2 separate regions of the Homo sapiens genome follow, and region 2 is linked to region 1. The links come from fine-mapping of genetic effects on gene expression. A gene starts in region 1. The other region holds a variant in brackets. All regions are shown on one strand. Distances are from middle to middle.

The links. PIP is the estimated chance that this variant, and not a neighbour inherited with it, causes the effect. A credible set is the group of variants that fine-mapping cannot tell apart.
Region 2: its variant is the best candidate, but not a certain one, in a credible set for the expression of SAAL1 in prostate (GTEx, PIP 0.68).

Annotation. Positions count from the first base shown.
Region 1 is chr11:18,100,153-18,110,537 of GRCh38, reverse strand. SAAL1 (serum amyloid A like 1) reads left to right here and starts at 4,456. Exons shown (of 12, transcript NM_138421.3): 1 at 4,456-4,631; 2 at 7,192-7,305. The coding sequence starts at 4,497. It also overlaps the pseudogene HIGD1AP5. RefSeq lists enhancers at 4,251-4,300, 4,451-4,710.
Region 2 is chr11:18,062,643-18,073,027 of GRCh38, reverse strand. No RefSeq gene overlaps it. Among named protein-coding and RNA genes, the nearest start is that of TPH1, 22 kb to the right of the region's middle. The variant G/A (reference allele first, on the strand shown) is at 5,629.

The DNA of each region.
Region 1 (10,385 bases):
AGCTGTGGAGAGGCGTCTCCAGCGATGGAGGTGGTATATGTGAAGAATCCACAACACACATACACAGAATCAGCTTCAAACACCTGCTGGGCCCAAAGAACATGAAACCATCTTATGAAAACACCAGTCAAGTAAGAATTTTCCTTTCCCTCCCCTCTCACTTCCAATCCTTCCCCCCTAATCGGGGAGAGGTCAGAAAGAGCAGCTGTCTATCTGTGGGAGGAGGAAGCAGGGAAGGAAACAAAGTCATCACCCCCCTCCAGACTGAAGTACCCATCTATAGTGGGCTTAACTAGGAAAGGGGAGAGAAATTTTCATTTTAAATGAATTGGAAGCTTCAAATCATGACTTGGACCTGGACTTTCTAGTTACCATTTTGAGATAAACTAAATGCCATCAAACCTGTGGCTTTAAATTACTACCTGTATAACACTGTTTGTTTTGTTTTGTTTTGTTATTTGAGACAGAGTCTTGCTCTGTTGCCCAGGTTGGAGTGCAGTGGCATGATCACCACTCACTGCAGTCTCAACTTCTTGGGCTCAAGCTACCCTCCCACCTCAACCTCCTGAGTAGCTGGGACTACAGGTGCTCCCCACCACACCTGGCTAATTTTAAAAAGAACATTTGTAGAGACAGGGTCTTACTATGTTGCCCAGGTTGGTCTTGAACTCCTGGGCTCAAGTGATCCTCCCACCTTAGCCTCCCAAAATGCTGAGATTACAGGCATGAGAACACCGTACCTGGCCTGTACAGTACTTTCAATAACCTTTGAGTAACTAGGGAAGGCATGAATTGACTTGTGTTCAGGATCAAAGTGAGAGATATTGGGACAAAAAAAAAGAAAGGAAAAAAAACCTGCTTTCTGGTTATAAAATGTAATTCTGTTTGATTAGCACACTGATGACATTGGAGAGTGTGTAATAACTAAGGATTATGATTAATCCAATTCTGTGCACCTGAGATCCAAAGAGAAAAGAAAAAAAACAAAACTCATGGAGCCTAGCTGTGAGTATCAGACTCAAATAAAAGTTGAGAAGACATTGGGAGGTTATCTCAGTAATGCCAACAACTTACAAATGAATTTTAGACTGGCCTCTTTCTTTTTTTTTTTTTTTTTTGAGACAGGATCTCACTCTGTCACCCAGGCTGGAGTGCACCGGTGCGATTTCAGCTCACTGCAACATCCACCTCCCAGGCTCAAGCCATCTTCCCAGCTGGGAATACAGGTGTGCGCAACCATGCCTGGCTAATTTTCATATTTTTTGTAGAGACCAGGTTTCTCCATGTTTTCCAGGCTGGTCTTGAACTCCTGACCTCAAGTGATCAGCCCACCTCAGCCTCCCAAAGTGCTAGGATTATAGGCATGAGCCATCGCGCCCAGTCCTGGCCTCTTCTTTTTAAAACTCATTTTTATTTTATTAAGAATAAAACAAATAATATACCATGAGTATATGTCAAAATTTAACATAAATTATATATCATAAACCAGCAAGTATTGAATTGTGGACTCACATCAATATGATGGTTGGTAAACATAACCTATATGTGTGTATATGATAAAAGAAATGAGTTGGGAGGCCGAGGCGGTGGATCACGAGGTCAGGAGATCGAGACCATCCTGGCCAGCATGGTGAAACCCCGTCTCTACTAAAAATACAAAGAATATTAGCCAGGCGTGGTGGTGGGCACTTGTAGTCCCAGCTACTCGGGAGGCTGAGGCAGGAGAATGGTGTGAACCCGGGAGGCGGAGCTTGCGGTGAGCCGAGATCGTGCCACTGCACTCCAGCCTGGGCGACAGAGCGAGACTCCATCTCAAAAGATAAATAAATACATTAATTAATTAAAATAAAATAAATAAAAGAAATGAGCTGGGTATGGTTGCTCATGCCTGTAATCTTAACACTTTTGGAGGCTGAGGTGGGAGGATCACTTGAGATCAGGAGTTGGAGACCAGCCTGAGCAACACAGGGAGACCTTCTGTCTCCAAAAAGGTAACTCTCTGCAAGCCTGACTGCTGAAACTGCCTCTTGTAAACGGAGACCAGTTTTATCTAACAACTGCTGAAACAACCTACTGTGACTCTAAGACTAATTTTACCTGCTGCCATCTCTCACCAATCCTAGCTTGCAAGCTCCCCCAAACCTTACTAAAACCAATAAAATTTCTTTCAAAACAACGTGTAACATTTCTCCTTTTTATAAAAGCCCCAACCTTCTCTTTGTACTTCAGATATATTGAAGACGCCCACCTGTCTCATCTGTGTGTATGCCCTGAATTGTAATTCTTACTTTCTAAATCAATTGCTTTAAATTTAGAGATTCATCTCTATGTTTTGTTTGACTTTGACGTAAGTATCACAGTAATTCTAGGCAAACATTGGACACCTTCATTATGTTTTCTAATATAGTTATGACTGAGTATTTAAAATATTCATGTGGACATTTTATTTTAAATAATTTCGGCCGGGCGCGGTGGCCCGCGCCTGTAATCCCAGCACTTTGGTAGGCCGAGGCGGGCGGATCACGAGGTCAGGAGATCGAGACCATCCTGGCTAACACGGTGAAACCCCGTCCCTACTAAAAATACAAAAAAAAAATTAGCCGGGCGAGGTGGCGGGAGCCTGTAGTCCCAGCTACTCTGAAGGCTGAGGCAGGAGAATGACGGGAACCCCAAGGGGCGGAGCCTGCAGTGAGCCGAGATCGCGCCACTGCACTCCAGCCTGGGCGACAGCGAGACTCCGTCTCAAAATAAATAAAATAAATAAATAAATAAATAATTTCATGTCTCCATTCCTGTTTGGTCATTATATTGATATTTTTGAAATTTCATGTGGAAGTAGCTTATATCATCTATAAATTTAATTCCATTAAATCAAAGTGGGTACTTGTAAATCAATTCCATCATAGGTAATTTTTTTAGTTTAATGTTTACGATTCTTATGGAGAAAGAAGTGTTTTTCATTTACCTTTGCATGGGTGCTTAAAATACACATTTCTATTTCAAGATGACACTGAAAAATTCTTCTAATATAACAGCAGCAAAAATGTAATTCTGCAATTACAAAAGTGCTAAACTGAAATCCATAATTAAGGTTTTCTCATGTTTACAATTGTGGTTCTTTAATCAATACTAATACTATGCAGGTCTGTTGTAAGGTTTCTAGATTCGGTTTAAACACACGCACACAATACTGTCAGTTGTAGGAGGCTTTACAAGTTATATTTCATGCACTTTTTTTTAAAGAGTTCTAAAAGAGCCAACCAGTCCACAAGACAGACAGAAAAAAAGTTAAATTAACTGGAGTAAATTGGACTCTTAACATTCGAAACATGCAAGATTCTGCAGCAAACTGGGAGTACTTCAGGATTGGCCTGCTATCTTCCTTAGTATTAATTTCATCTTAACAGTTTAAGAAGTTGGACATTTTAACACCATCAAGCGCATTTAGGTGACGTGTTTCTTGTGTGTTAACTTGGCTCCCCGGAATGATCTAGTTAGTGAACTAGTCACTAATAATTTGGTCACCAGGCAAATCAAGCCTACACGAAAGGAAGCGACTATTCAAAATACCGTAGTATCATCTGAACCTACCCAAATAATTTATGTTCAACATAAACATGTAACTTCAATAATGAGATGACTCATTAATGAGTCAAGCTCCTCCAACAAGACAAAGACAACATCTCTTCTTCTAAGGTTTAAGTTTTGCATAGAAATCCGGATACATGGAATAGCCCATACCAACAGTCATTGCTCCTACAACAAAGCTGGACTGCCACACGCATGTGGATCAGGTGACGTGATATTTTAGTATTTCCCCTGCTTTTCAATTTGTATAATCCGTATGCAGCAACTACTGCAAAACCTGCCATTCCAATGGGGACAAATGGTGCCTCTTTAGTTTTTCGAATCACTTTGGATCCCTGGAATCCCTCACAAGCCATCCAGCTTCCCCTACGGATATTTTTAGGAATGGCAACAGTGGCCAGAGATCAGAGGATTATATTATTAGGGTTATACAACTTTTATATAAAAAAAGTGGCTTCTGACCAGGCGCGGTGGCTCACGTTTGTAATCCCAACACTTTGGGAGGCCGAGGCAGAAGGATTGCTTGAGCCAGAAGTTCGAGACCAGCCTGGGCAACATAGATCAGAAGGCGAATAGAATAAGTCCGCTAGCTTTGAGATTCACATCTGTTCCTGAGGCTTCCTCACTGCTCCCCACCCTTCCTTCTTCAATCAGTCTAAGAGCTCCTGGAGAAATGGAACACCTGATTCAGTGAGGGTGACAAATAATTATGAGTATGTTCGTGCCAGGGTCCTCGATAGGATGGGGTGGGGGAGGTCAAGCCGCCTTGGCAGCTGGCCAGGCTCCGAACAGCAGATGGCGCTGTAGGGGGAGTCCCACCGGGTACGCCGGGCGCTCTGGCACTAGGGCGCCGGTCGTCTCCTCCGCAGCTTCCGGCACGGCCTTCAAGCGCGGGACGCGACAAAGTCATGGACCGCAACCCCTCGCCGCCGCCGCCGGGTCGCGACAAGGAGGAGGAGGAGGAGGTGGCCGGTGGAGACTGCATAGGGAGCACGGTCTACAGCAAACACTGGCTCTTCGGCGTCCTCAGCGGACTCATCCAGGTGTGGAAACTCGCGCCACGCGTGGGGTGTCCCTACATCCCCCAGGCACCGGGGCTCCGCCTCTGGCGAATCCTCCTGCCCCGGGAGCCGCCATCCCCACAAAGACCCCTCCCCAGGCGTGCGCTGCGGGACCTTGCTCCTTGCGTTTCGCCGGCCGCTGCGGACCCCAAAACTATCTGGGCCCCCTCGGGGTCTCTCGACACAAAGGGAAGTATAATGGTAGGGATGCTGAAATACTTGCCGTTCTATTTTGCTTTCCCAAGTTCTCCAAAAATACATGATCGTGTAACTGCATTCCTCGGGTTTTGCTCCCCATCCCCACTGTCATTTCTGAAGCCCAGGTCCTTAATTTATGTATTTCATGGACTATCGTTGTAATAGAATAAATGGTGACTTTAGGGTTATACAACTTTTATATTAAAAACGTGGCTTCTGACCAGGCGCGGTGGCTCACCTCTGTAATCCCAACACTTTGGGAGGCCGAGGCGGAAGGATCGCTTGAGCCAGGAGTTTGAGACCAGCCTGGGCAACATAGACCTGGTTTCTACAAACTTAAAAAAAAAAAAAAAAAAAAGCCGGTCGTGACGGTGCACGCCTGTAGTCCCAGCGACTCAGGAGGCTGAGGCTGGAGGATCGCTTGAGCCTGAAGTTGGAGGCTGCAGTGAGCTATGATCCAGCTTCTGCACTCCAGGCTGGGGGACGGAGTAAGACCCTGTCTCAAAAAAACAAAAAACGCAGCTTCCTTACCCACTAGCTGCAGGTCACCTAACGGCTCAGAACCTCTATTTGTCCCTTAATTTCTATAAAATGGGATTATAATATTTATATTATATATAAGGTTATTGTGTAGGTTAAGTGAGATTATAATGGCAACAGAGTGCTTAGCATGGTGTTTGGCTTATAGGAGGCTGTCAGTAAATGTGTTTTCTTCCCCCCATGTTTCCCTAATTGGTTCCTCTCCTCCTATTGTCTATCCTCTCCAGTCAATTTTCTACACAGCTGCCAGAATAATCTTCTTTAAAGACAGGGCTATTCATGATACTGCTCTTAGTTCTTTTTGCCTGGGAGAAAAATGCATGTTTCTTGAAGTTTGGAATCCAGGGCTGTTTGTACATTTTCCAGCCTCATCTTCTCATGATACACTGTGTTCCATCAACTCTGAACTGTTCACCATCCCCAAACATGCTAGGCCCTTTCTTAACTCTGAACTCTTGTGCTTTCCTCTGAATACTCACTTCTCTCCTTCTTCACATGACAAACTACTATTCTTCCTTTAAAATTTAGCTTAAATATCAGCACCTAAGGGAAGGTTCCCCATCTTCTCCTAGGAATAGGTCATTGGTCCATCGTTTTTGCTACCAGAACTCTTTGTCCACAATTCAGTTGAATCACTTTGCCTTTTCTAATATGACTATCCCTTTACATGTCTTTCCCCACTAGATCCTAAAAGTTAAAAAAAAAAAAAAGCTTAAATGTAAGGGATTATATCTTACTTGTCTTTGTATATCTACCCCAGTGCCTAGCAACAGTATTTACTTTGTGAATGTTGAAAGAGTAGATCTACCCAAGGTACTACATTTTTAAAAGAAGATTTTTGCAAGAGAAGATACTTTGCTGATAGCCTCTTTGTGACTTCTAAACGATTATGGGTTAATATTAAAGTAAGTGCTCACTTAACATCAGTAGGTTCTTGGAAATTGTGACTGTAAGCAAAATTACTGATAATGAAACCAATTTTACCATAGCTAATTGATATAAACAAGAGTTAAGTCCCTGTGGCATATTTCTGGACACAAGAACATCACCAAACTTCTAAATGAGGACCTAAAACACTTCTAATATTAAACATTGAGATAAATGTGAGCTATAATACGTTTAGGAAAGGTTAATAAAAACAAGATAATTATTCACCCAGTTTTGGTGAGTTAGTGAGTGATGGTGGTTGTAGTGATTATCACTACAACCTTTATTCTTTGATTGTGTTAAATCAAGGAATAAATGTTTACAAAGCAAAAATGATCACCTCTTACTACTGTACAGTCCAAAAACAATAACAAATAAGGCAGGCTTACTGAGCACTTTCCTACCACATAATTATTGTCACGCATCTCTATGGTTATTGTCTTCTTTACAGATTTTTGTTTTATAATAATTTGTATTCATCCATTTCCCAACCCACTTGCTCTGGTTCAGGGTTGAGGGTGGCTGGAGCCTGTACCAGCAGTTCAAGGTGCAAGGCAGAAACCAGCCCTGGACAGGATGCCATCCCATCACAGGTACACACACACCCACACTCACTCAGATTGGGACCATTTAGATACCCGTTGTGCTAATGTGCAAATTTGGGGGATGTAGGAGGAAACTAAAGTACCTGGAACAGACTCATGCACTCTTGGGGAGAACATGCAAACTCCACACAGACAGTGGCCCTGGCCAGGAATCAAATTTTTTTCTCATCAGCGTTACGAGGAAATGTTATTTGATCACCTGCTGTATTTGGGTACCTGGTTAGTATTGTAGACAACTTTTATTCATGTTTTCTTTCTTTGTGTTTCTGAAGATTGTTAGCCCTGAAAACACCAAATCTAGCTCAGATGATGAGGAGCAGCTGACGGAGCTTGATGAAGAAATGGAGAATGAAATTTGCAGAGTATGGGATATGTCAATGGATGAGGTATGAGGCTGGAAACAAAACTCTGAAGACTGTTGGGTGAGGAGATGGTGAATGAATGTTTTAAAAACGGTTCAGTCCTTCACTCTGGGGAAAGGCTTTATCTCCTGTCTGTAATCACACCCATATATGATATAGGGAATGAGATCCCAGGGGCTATAAATGCTAAACTTCTGTCTTTGAGGCTGGAGGATTTGAGCTCTCAACAGATTCGGACTAAATACGTAGCTCTTATGAATGTATTCCTATACACATGTAGGCCGGGAAAGTTCTGATACTTACCTACCTAAAGAGAGCTCTGGCCATATATTTGACAGCAGGTTAGGAGTTAGAAGACCACTGATATACCATGATAATATTAGAAGGAAAGGACAATAAATAATTATATGTCTGTAATTGCAGTATTAATCATAGTGTTTTAATATCTGTATTTTATTCTATAGCTCAAAAGCATTTTCATATATAGTATTCTATTTGATCTTCACAATAACCCTGTGATGTAGGTAGTACCCTTATTTTACAGTTAAGAAAATAGAGGCCAAAAGACATTAAATGACCTATGTAATCTTTCTTGTTTTATTACCTGGACTTTAGCAATAGCTTCCTGATTAAAATCCTTGTTTTAGTCTCTTTCACCTCCCTTCTGTCCTCTACATTGCCACCCGTGTTACCTTTTTTTCCGGAAATACAGACTTAATTGTACTCATTTTCTTAAAAATTGTCAATGGCTATTCATTGTTTCAGTCATTTTATTTAAAACTTTATTGAGGTATAATTAACACCAAAAAACTGCATATTGTTTTGAAGTATCATTGACATTGATTTTTTTTTTTTTTTTGAGATGGAGTCTCTATCACCTAGGCTGGAGTACAGTGGTGCGATCTCAGCTCACTGCAATCTCCGCCTCGAGGGCTCAAGTGATTCTCCTGCCATAGCGTCCAGAGTAGCTGGGAGTACAGGTGTGAGCCACCAATCCCTGCGAATTTTTATATTTTTAGTGGAGACAGGGTTTTACCCTGTTGGCGAGGCTGGTCTTGAACTGCTGACCTCAAATGATCCATCCTCCTCGGCCTCCCAAAGTGCTGGGATTATAGGAGTGAGTCACCGCACCCAGCCAATAAACTTTGACGGATGTGTACGCAGATTAAGCTGTCACTGTAATCAGGATACAGCGCATACCCATCACCCCTGAAAGTTTCTTTATGGTCCTTGGTAGTCTCTTCCTCTTGCCTCTCCATTCCTCCATCCCCTCCAGGCAACCACTGATCTGCTTTCTGTCACTACAGATTAGTATGTATTCTAGAGTTTTATATGAATGTGCTCATATGCTTTTTTTGGTCTGGCTCTTTTATACAGCATAATTATTTTGAGATTCATCCATGTTGTGTATATCAGTGGCTTTTTTTTTTTTTTTTATTGCTGAATGGTATTCCATTATATGTATATACCACAATTTATTTTTTACCTGTTGATGAATGTTGGAGTTGTTTAAGGCTTATTACAGATAAAGCTGTTGTGAACTTTTGTATACAAGTGTGTATGGACATATACTTTGTTTTTCCTTGGGTGAATACCTAGAGTGGTGTGTTAGTCCATTCTCATACTGCTATAAGGAAATACCTGAGACTGGGTAATTTATGAAGGAAAGAGGTTTAATTGACTCTCAGTTCAGTATGGCTGGGGAGGCCTCAGGAGACTTACAATCATGGCAGAAGGGGAAGGGGAAGCAGGCACCTTATTCACACGGTGGCAGGAAGGAGAAGTGCGAGCAGGGGAAATGCCAGACGCTTATAAAACTATCAGATCTCATGAGACTCACTCATTATCATGAGAACAGCATGGGGGAAACCACCCCCGTGATTCACTTACCTCCACCTAGTCTTGCCCTTGATACGTGGGGATTATGGGGATTGCAATTCAAGGTCAGATTTAGGAGGGGACACAGAGCCAGACCATATATCAAGTGGCATGGCTGGATCATACGGTAGGTGTATGCTTAACTTTTTAAGAAACTTTCAATTTGTTTTCCTAAGCAGTTTTTTACCATTTTACATAACCACAAGCAGTGTATGAGACATAATTCCAGGTCCAATTTCTCCTCAACCTCACCAACACTTAGTATGGTCAGTCTTCTTAATTTTAGCCATGCTAATAAGTATGTAATGATAGCTCATTGTGATTATAATTTGGACTTCCTTAATTCCTAATGATGAGCATCTTTTCATGTGTTTATTTGTACTCTGTGTATCTTTTTTGGTGAAGTACCTGTTTGAATCTTCTGCCTGCTTTTTAATTGTGTTGTTTTCTTACATTTTCTTCTAAAAGTTTTATAATTTTAGGTTTTACATATAAGTCTGTGATCCATTTTGAGTTGATTTTTGTATAGTATATGGTGCAAGGATGGATGAAGTTTATTTTTTTGCTTATGGATATTTAATTGTTCAAGTTCATTTGTTGAAAAGACGATCCTTTCTCCACTAATTGCTTTTGTGTCTTTGTCAAAAATCAGTTGTCCACATACTTTATAGTTTGAAATCTTTTCTTTTTAAAGATAGACATCAAGCACTATAGAATTTTCCCTAAATATTTATGCTTTACCAGTATTCCACAATTTCTGATATGCTGTGTTTACAATTTTTTTTGAGACAGAGTCTCGCTCTGTATTTTTTGTAGAGATGGGGTTTTGCCATGTTGGCCAGGCTGGTCTTGAACTCCTGGCCTCAAGTGATCCCCCTGCCCCGGCCTCCCAAAGTGCTGGGATTACAGGCGTGAGCCACCATGCCCGCAGAAGTTCAGAATACTTTCTAATATTCTTTACTTTTTCTTTGGTTTATAGGTAAGTTTCAAATATTTGGGAATGTTTCAGTTATCTTTCTCTTGCTGTGGTTGGTGAACACTGAATCCTTTTAAATGTGTTGAGATTTGTTTTATAGCCCAGAATATGGTTTTAAGTAAACCTGAAATATTTACCATGTTGACTTAAAAAGCATGTGTGTTCTGCTGTTGCTGGGTGGAATATCTTATTCTCAATGTCAGATCAGGTTGGTTGAGAGTATTGTTCAGATCTACTTTCTATTCTACAA
Region 2 (10,385 bases), 38 kb after region 1:
GTGTTCAATTTTGAATACCTGTTGGACATCCACATGGAGATGTCCCATTTCCATACAGACTTGGAACTCTGTGAGAGAGTGGGCTAGAGATACAGCTTAAGGACTTAGGACAAAGCTCCAAGGAATACAAACATTTAAAGGGCTAACAATGTCGATGAAAGAGACAGGTTGTACAGAGACACTGGACTAAATTGGGAGAGATTTACAGCTTATAAGTGACAGTTCACAAGGAAATAGTACATTTGAAGCTGAACACCAGATCCACTGTTCTCACCTCTGAACATGACTGCTCCACCTAGGGCTTAGGAAAAGTAGCTCCGTGTGATGAATTGGCGCTGGACACTCAAAATCATAGCCTTCTACAGAAAGGTTTCCTATAAGGATATTTCCTGTAAGGAACTTATATTTCACACCCATGCTTGACCAAGCAGGTATGGCATAATGGGAAGCATGTTTTTTAAAAAGGGAAACAACACATTGGATATGCAATACGATTTTGATTTTGTTAAAATACATAGAATATTGAACAGAAATAGATCATATCAAACAGAAATAGAACACACATTAGTGGTGAAAATGAAAAAGAAAACCATTGATCAAGGTGATCAAGGGTCAGTATGACCTTGACCAAGTCAGTTAGCTTTTCTGAGCATCCTCATCTATAGAGTAGAGATGAGGTTAAATTGCCTACCCTGCAGGATTACTTGAAGTGTTAATGAGATTAAACTAACACTGGAAATTGTAAAGGCCTGTACAAATCTCACATATTAGGGAGCTTCCAAACACTAATGTTTTGTTCCAGGGAAATCTGTTTCTAAGGGGGCCTCACCAAAATGATGTTTGATGTTGGTTAAAATGAATTGGCTGATCACTTCTTAGGTTTTCTTGAGTGAGATCTGAAAAGTCTCAAAACTCTGAAAATTCTACAGCCATGTTTATTTTTCACTAGAGCTAAACTAAGTAAAGATGTACCATGCTTGATATTTCATTGCAAATCTGATTTGTACTGGAGCATCAAGAACTCTTTAGTCGTGGTCTTATTGTATACTTTGTGCTGCCTCTAAACACCTTTCCTTGTTTTTTGAGACGGAGTCTCGCTCTGTCACCCAGGCTGGAGTGCAGTGGTGCGATCTCAACTCACTGCAACCTCCACCTCCTGGGTTCAAGTGATTCTCCTGCCTCAGCCTCCCGAGTAGCTGAGATTACAGGAGCCCGCCACCATGCCCAGCTAATTTTTGTGCTTTTAGTAGAGATGGGTTTTCACCATGTTGGCCAGGCTGGTCTCGAACTCCTGACCTAAAGTAATCCACCCACCTCGGCCTCCCAAAGTGCTGGGATTACAGGCTGCAGTGAGCCACTGCACCCGTCCTAAATTAACTTTTAAACACCAGCTTCCTGTGTTCCACTGCCAAGGCTACAGCCCATATTTATAAAAACTATTCTGCTTGCTAGAACACCTCATAATTACATACTGACCTTGTATCAATATTGAGCTTGTTGACCTGCAGGCTGTTTAGAGGTTCAGGACTTACCAGACCATCTGCCAAATGCTGCCATTGGTAATGCTTTTCTCTATTACTGTAATGAAATCGCTAAAATCATTTCCTGTTCCCAGTCCTTGTTCAGATCTTCTATCTACTGTCAATAAAAGGATATTAAAATACTCAGAAAAGTCCACATATCCTTTTCATCCTGGTCCACAGTGTAGCACATGGCTTTATGTTTTAGTGTTGGAAATAATAAATGATCAATGACGTCAAGCCTGTTGTAATAAAAGAAGGCTGCTTATTAAACTCCCTCTCTCCAGCTGTTTTTCCTTTGACATCACGGGATCTGTTTATAATGACCTTTATGGGTTTTCCCCCTTACCATTCAGGCTTTATATGATTACAAGAGAAATTAAAGTTCTGTGAACAGTCTCTTCACAGAAGTGACACTTTCCTGCTCAGGCCCAATGTGCATGCAGGCTCCAACAACAGGATAGTGGGAAGAAGGAACAAAGAGGCTTCCCGTTCCCTTGGAGAAGCCTGACTTCCTGAAGTATGGGCTTGCTTCCAGGAAGCAGTATACATTGAAAGCAGTCAGTGGGTAAGGATTGTATATATTAATCACAGCCCACAATTCAAGCAAATGCATATACTATGGCTTTATTATGTCACTCAACATACGATCATGTAGTTTTGTTTTGAGTGGTGCCTGTTGAACCTAAACCATTTGAGGAATTTGGCATCTCTGCAAATTCGTTCTTTTGGGGGGCTGTATTTTGGAAGGCTGATGGCCTTTGTCAATCTATGAATGTGCTTCCTTCAAAATGCAACTGGTGTTGGACTTTTCCTATCTGTACCCAGGAATAAGCCAATTGGCAGGAATTTCTGGAGGAAACTCCTAAATCCTTTAACACTGCCCCTGCCCCCCATCACAGAGAAGTCTGTACTCTGTTGTCATTGGAAGAACAAAAGTTTGTTGATGCCCTGGAATAAAATCTCTAAATTAAATTCTCTAATTTCTTTTTATATTTATTTTAGGTTTGAACAAACCAGATAACTGTTCTGTTTGTCCTAAGTGACCTCTAGAGATTGTTGCCATTTCCATGATGTTCAATATTCAAAGCAATTTGGAGACTTCTTGTTCCAGATGCACCCCTTTGTTCGTTGCTCACATCAAGTGATATCTGACTGGTCTTTAAAGATCCAAATTTCACAATTTTGGATGAGCCTTGACTGATCTGAAAATGTTAGATTTTTCTCTTTCATTCTGTTTGAACATGCTTTAGTGTGAGTTGGCTATTTCTTTAGAGCAATTAAGGAAAAATGCCCAATTTCCCAGAACAACTCACAAAGTACTCATGGATTATTTCATTTTCTTAGGAAGTTGCCTACTTGCTAAAAGGTGTACCCTGAGCATTTGTGACTCCGAGGGAAACCAGGAACATCATGCTGCAGAAACCCTTTGGAGGAACGTGCCAACTGCTCCGTAACCATGAGCTGGCTCTCCTTTGATGGAGAGATTAATAGTTTCCATAATTATATCATCCTGGTTGTTCTGGGGCCAGAGTTTACTTAGACTTGAAAGAAATTGAAGTTAATTGAAAAAGAAAAAAAAATTCTTCCTGTCTTATTTCCCCTTTAAGCCTCTCATCTAGAGAAATGATGAGAAAGAGATTCAAGGATTTGTTGCCAATGGGAGCCAAAATGTTTCTTTTGAAATTGTAGATAAAAAGAACCAGAAGAAAGCAATTGGATGGTGGGGAGGGGGTAGTTATGGGAAAGGGGTTACAGCTCTGCCTAAATAATTCCAAACAACAGAAACACTGGGCAGCGGAGCCAGTGTACATGTGGCGGGTTGTCCCGGGGAGTGGACGTCGGTTCTGGAAACAAGTGCAGAAGGAGCAGAAGAGAAGTTTGGTAGTTGATGTGATTGTTAGTAGAAGAATTGGATTGGTCTACTGATTTTTATCTGTGTCTGTGTCTAATACAGAGGAGCTACCATCAGCTTATTTGCCACATCGTAGAGTTTGGGAATACTTATCTTTGGTTAAAATCCATTTTTTCTTGCTCTAAAATTTGAGCTCAATTTTTTCTTTGTAAAGCCCCTATCATCACTCTTGACCAGTTCTCTCAAACTGCACTCCAGTAAGATTGCTATTGGACCTTGGAGAGTTTCAGTGGGCGGACGATGTGGCCCTCCCTGGGAGAAATGGGATGTTAATAGAACATAGGTTCTATTGAGAGTGTCATGTCTTCAGTCAAAGATGAATTTCCAATATGTGATCACCAAGTGCTTTGTTGAAGCTTATTGAACCCGTAAGAGAGAAACTGAATTGTAGATTAACACTTCTCATTCATTCATTCATTCCAAAGTATATTGTGATTTGAACTTATTGTGTGTTAAGCACTGTGCTCAGTTAGTGGGACTAAGGAGGTGACAATTCAAGATAGGAGGAAGACAAGGGGGCTAGTTAATAGCTGTTCATTCCATCAGTTTCTGAAAGTTCAAGGTCCATCTCACTTCTCCTGAAGCTATGTACTTTCACTCTTCCAACTTCTATGCTAGTCGGAGATGTGGGGGTCTCTTGAGGATTACACAACTATAAGTGATGTATATATTTAGTGAGAGAATATCTCCCTGTAGTTTATATGCAGGCTCAACAGCACCCTTCCACCACTGCCCACCCTCCATGACAATTAAGGACAGCAGATAAATGCTTCCACCCACTCCTCTTTTGGGACTTAACAAGGAAATCACTCAGACCACTCTCATTCCAACCCAGGGCTTGGCCATATCTCACCTGTAGAGGGAGGTTCTGAATTTTAGCTTTCCTGTGATTCCTGAAGTTCCCATGCAATATCAATGCTGAGTTGAGAGCTAGTGGACATGCCAACACACCTGCATGGCAGGGAACGATTGTGCCACAGCAGAGACTAGAGGAATGATGTATATGTGAGAGGCTCAAAGGTTTGTTGCCAGTGGGAACTGTGATGAGGCCTACTCACTCAGGGAGTACTGTGGAGTCTTACCCAGGCCAAGAAAAACAAAATCCCTAAATTACATTAGCTTCACGACACAGCCTCACACAACAGTGAAGCAATCAGCATGTTGGAAACCAAGAGGCTAGAGTTGGAAAGAACATAATCCTCTCCACACCTACCGTGAGGTCTCACAGGTGTACCTCTCTTTCATAAAGTTGGGCTCCGTCTTAAGAGGAAGCTATTTAAGCACTGAATCTTTTTTTTTTTTTTTAATTAAAGACTGGGCAATTTTTTTTTTTTTTTTAGACGGAGGCTCACTCTGTCACCCAGGCTAGAGTGCAGTGGCACAATCTCGGCTCACTGTAGCCTCGACCTCCCAGGTTCAAGCAATTCTCCCACCCCAGCCTCCCAAGTAGCTGGGATTAAAGGCACCCGCCACCATGCCCCACTAAGGACTGGGCAATTCTTAAAGTCTCTATTTAAGTTATTGGACCAGAGTAAATTGAAACTGAATTGGGTCTTCAGTTTGTTAATTTTCCTGCTACTAACAGATGGGGGCTCCAGAGAAATAGCAGATTTGTCACAGGCAAAATGAAGCTGTTACCTTTCTCTCTGCATCTGAGCAATAGTATGAGTTGAATTTTGAGACCTAGACCCTACAATATGGGAAGAGTAGGAGGAGATGAATTTGCTGAAGTTATGATAGGTAAGATAGATAAGGGAGATAAAATAAGAATCCTTAGAGACTTTTGGAATCCCTATAGTTAGATATACTCAATATTCTTCCACATACATGGATCCATTTTCAAGAAAACAAAGAGCAGGATGGTAGATAAAAAAGAGATTTCATTATATTTCAGTAGGCTTGCTGACTGACTTCTTTTATATCCAGAATCTACAGGGAGCACCTAATATGTATGGTGAAGCCATGAAGCATGTCTATCCTGGGGTAAGCCTAAAGTATTCCTTTAAAATGCTGACACATCTAAAGAGAAAGATAAACTGGAATTCCACATCCAGTCTACAACCCATCTCCAATGTGAAACGGGAGACACTGTTGAACATATTCATTTTTATATTCAGCAAGCGTTTGCTGATGGCCAGCTCCATGTCAGGCACAGCACTAAATGCTGGGGGATACAGTGCTTGACATAGGGCA[G/A]TTGCTCCACAAATGTTAGTTAAATAAGTGAATGAAAACTATGTTCCCTAGCTGGAGGCTGACTTAACGTCAATAAGGCTTAACCCTTAAGGTAGTGGTTCCCAAACTTTCATGCAGATTGGAATCACCACAGGCTCTTTAAAAATGCCAGTGCCTGGTTTCTACCCCCAGACATTCTGATTCAATTGATATGGGGTGCGAACTGGGCACCAGGACTTTTTAAAAGCTCCCCAAGTGGTTCTACTGTATGGCAAAGTTTGGGAACCATGGGTTTAATGGCCCCTCACTTGGTCACGTGGTCTCCTTCCACGACTCTGGGAGGTGCCTAGCAATTTTGAATGTGAAATTTTATACTATTTTTATTGGACAAGGCCCCCAACTTGAATGATTTTCAGGTACCATAAAATCTGAATCTGCCCTTCTCCATCCTTGTGGTGGTCTTAGTCCAGTCAGCTGGTTGCTTATTGAGCACAAGGTTTTCAGAAGTGTAATTTGGCTGAAGATACAGATTAGCAGCCGTCTTATGGCTACCACCACATGGCAGCTAAACCATTACAAGCAACTGATGTCACCCTTTGTGGTTTTGTCTCCCTTATGTTTTGGCCCATGACCTTAACAGGGATTTTTGCAATGCTTTCAGAGAGAACTCCAGTGTGGAGTGGAAGCATTGGTTGCTACAAGTGCAAGGTTCTGTAGTTTTATCGAGGATTTTTTTTCTTTTTTGAGACACAGTCTTGCTCTGTTGCCCAGGCTGGAGTGCAGTGGCATGATCTCAGCTCACTGCAGCCTCTGCACCCCAGACTCAAGTGATTCTCCCACCTCAGCCTCCCAAGTAGCTGGGACCACAGGCGTGCACCACCACACCTGGCTATTTTTTAGTATTTTCTTTTCCTTTTTTTTTCTTTTTTTTAGATGGAGTTTCACTCTTGTTGCCCAGGCTGGAGTGCAGTGGTGTGATCTTGGCTCCCTGCAACCTCCCACTCCCAGGTTCAAGCGATTCTCCTGCCGCAGCCTCCCAAGTAGCTGAGATTACAGGTACCCACCACTACACCTGGCTAATTTTTGTATTTTTTAGTAGAGACAGGGTTTCACCATGCTGGCCAGGCTAGTCTTGAACTCCTGACCTCAGGTGATCTGCCTGCCTCGGCCTCCCAAAGTGCTGGGATTACAGGCATGAGCCACTACTCCTGGCCTTTTTTTGTATTTTCTATAGAGACGGGGTTTCGCCATGTTTGCCCAGGCTTGTCTCGAACTCCTGAGCTAAAGCAATCTGCCCGCCTTGGCTTCCCAAAATGCTGGAATTACAGGTGTGAGCCATTGTACCTGGCCTGAATTTTGTGTTATATTGATTGGGTTTCATGGTCAGCATAAAGTTTTTGCCTTCATAGCATTTCCAGCACAAGGGCTTTGCAAGAAACACACCATGGTCCTTTTCTGTGTCCCTGGAGTTCTCTACCTCACCATCCCCCTACCCTTCTTGGAAGAGTTGCCTGGTGACACTTACGAGGCCGATTCAAAGCTCTACAAAATTTATGCAATGATTTTATTACAGAGGCAAACAATACTGATTTCTGCTGTACACGTGGGCTGGTTGGCAGAGGATGGTCACATGTGCGACTTCCTCTTCTGTGCTTTTGGCCAGGTGCGCACCTGGGAATGTGTCTTTGTGACTCACTGGAGTGAACATGCACACAGCCTGAAGGGGAGAGAATGGAGCCTGCTGTGCAGGAGCTGACACCAGGCCCTCAGCGTCGTTTGGAAGTGGCTCTGAACTTGCTAAGTGGCTGTCTGCGTTGTATTTACTCATATCATCTACAAAGTAGAGGCTGCTCTGGGGTTCTCTGAGGCTTCTTTTTCCTGGCCAGGCTTGTTGTGAGTCCTGGCTCCTTTGGTATATCAGACACTTCCTCAGCAGGTTACATCCACGTCATGTGTGCACCTGATTATCAGCGGCTTTGTTGCCCACTGAGGAAAATGGACCCTCCCTCTCCAAGTGACCAGCAAAGGCAGTTTAAGGTCATGCTGCTGCTCTCTGTAGGGTGGGGCTTGGGCCTTTTTGATTACCTTCTGCCGCAATGGAGCCTGTAAAATCTTCTAATATCTGGCACCCATGAGGAGGTGCCCCTGATTAGCCTCTTCCAGGGTGGAGTATGGGGCATTTATGCTATGTAGATAGGATTTTCCCAAAGATGCGAGGAAGCTCTCTCCTTCTGTCCATTTGGAACTCCAGGAGTGGCAGTCCTTGTCTCTCCACATGGTGTATTTTCTTCTCTTAACTCTCCCAGATGGTCACATTTGGATTCTCTCAGAATCTTCCTGATTTCCATGAAAGCTCGGTCACAGTACCTTAAGCTCAGTTGGAGAAACAAAGAAGGGAGGTTAATCATCACGTTTGCTCATTTCCCCTGATGTAGACTTATCATACCCTTTCATAAAAGCTTCAGAGGTCATTAATTTGACAAATGGTACTGGCTTTGCTTTCTGCAGCCTCAACAAATGCTGTTTAACTTGTTGGAGAAATGGCTAGTGGCACTGTATGAGCAGGGCGATAATGCCTCTTTGAACAACACAAAGCAAACATTAAGACAGCAGACATTGAGGGAAATCAAGTGTGCCCAAGTAACGGGGCCAATTTCCCCAAGCACAGTTGATTCTCATGCTATAAGATAGTTTTCCTCACTCCAAAATCTGAGTAGCCAGCACTTCCTAATGATTCAGACCATTCTGTGTTTCCATATTAATGGCATTTTTGCACAGTTTGCGTTATTAACTTGAGCAGGAATGCTGCATGGTACAACTCCGGGGGGCACCATTCACGCTGTCTTTAATGTAAATCACGAGTCCTAGTCTTAGAATGTCTTGGCTCTTCCAGATGGTATTGAGTGCTTTCATAATTATCACTAAAGGATTGGGAGGTTTCTATATGATTCAGAACCCAAACTTAATGAAGTCTTAAAAACCTGAAGGAACTGAAAAATGAAATATATCTTTGGGTTCCTCAATCTACTTTTTGAAATGTTGTGGTACATTGAGGTAAAATGTTTCCAAGGATAAGTGAGGCCTTAGGTTCTGTTCCCCCTCTGCCACTTACTGTGTGACTTTTGGCAAGCTGTAATGCACAGCAAATGAAAGGCTTTGTCGTGATCGATACTTGTTGGGCCATTTTGCTCAGTGTGTTTGAAATGGCCACAAGCCAACACTTCATGAGGCAATGTGTTGAAGCAGAGAAGTTCAAGTGATAAACAGGGTTTCCAATTGTAATTTTAAAAAGTGTAATGAGAATTGAAGGGGACTTGGAATGAAATTTGTGTAATGCTGTGTGTAAACAGACTTGTGCACCACTCTTCCCGTAAAGCCATTTGGGTGTCATCTGATATGAGAGCTCACTGAAGATGTCATGTTGTGAAGATTACTATGATTTTTGCAGGGAGATTTAGTAGATCTGGATCTTGAGGACTTAAGAGATTATGTCCCGGCCTAACCTCTCTCCTCCATCCCTTTGCTTCATCAAATTAATTTCAATTTGAACATGGATAGAATGCCATATGGCTTCTAACATCTGAGGTCTTAAAGAAGCAGCCTCTGTTTCACACGCGTGGAGGCATAAATGGAGCTTTGACCTTCATGATTAAGGATTACAGACAGCATTTTGTTTTTATTATCATGTCTTGCATTTCTCTCACATCTCACATAGACTTGCTTTTTTCTTTTTGTGTTTGAGACGGAGTCTCAATCTGTTGCCCAGGCTGGAGTGCAGTGGCACGATCTCCACTCACTGCAACGTCCGCCTCGTGGGCTTAAGTGATTTTCGTGCCTCATCCTTCCAAGTAGCTGGGACTAAAGGTGCCCGCCACCATGCCCAGCTTCATTTTTGTATTCATATATTCCTTCTCAACAAGCATGTATTGGATAATTACTTATTAACAGCCTTCTCTGTAATAGGCACTGTGCTGGATCCTGCCGTAGAGGTGAAAGGCACAGTTCCTGCCCTGAAAGAGTTTATGGCCAAGGAGAGAAACAAAGGAACAAATATTTACAATGCCATAGACAGAAGTAAGCTTAGGGAGCGTTCCCACGGCAACTGTGGTTTCTGGAAAATGGTTGTCGCTTGTTACAGGGATCTCCTTCAAGTAAATGATAAAATCTAAGCTAAACATGTACATATTCATTCACTGGAGTTCAAATCACGTTTCCTCTTAGAAGAGGTAGCATGATGAGTAAAACCACACAGAGCTGAGAGACAGAACAGGTGGTTTCTAGTTCATGTTATGCCATTTACAAGCCGTGTAACTTTAGATAAGTCACCGAACCATCTGAGTCTCAGTTACTTTAATGACCAAAGTAAACAATATAAATAAAAGTACTTTGAAAAATGTAAAGCACTATATAAATTTTAGAGATTGATATCAGAAAAACCTTTAGTTTGCTGCATGCACACAATATATAGCTGAAGAATAGTAAGCACAACTTTTACCTTGGGCCTAATTTTTCCCTGAAGAAAAATTTCCCTAATCTTTCTTAACCATACACATAAATCACATTGTGATGTCCAAAACTATTCTTTTTACCTAAATCTCCAGTCACAAGACAATTAGCGTGCATTTTAAACTCTCAGTTTGTATATTAGCATGGTATTAAAATCTCTATAGATCAGCCTAAGAATAATTTTTCAGAGAATGATTTTTCCTGAGGTGTGCATACGAGTGGCAAGGCTACACTTTGCTTTGATTTCACTGCACACAAAAAAGGAAAGTTCT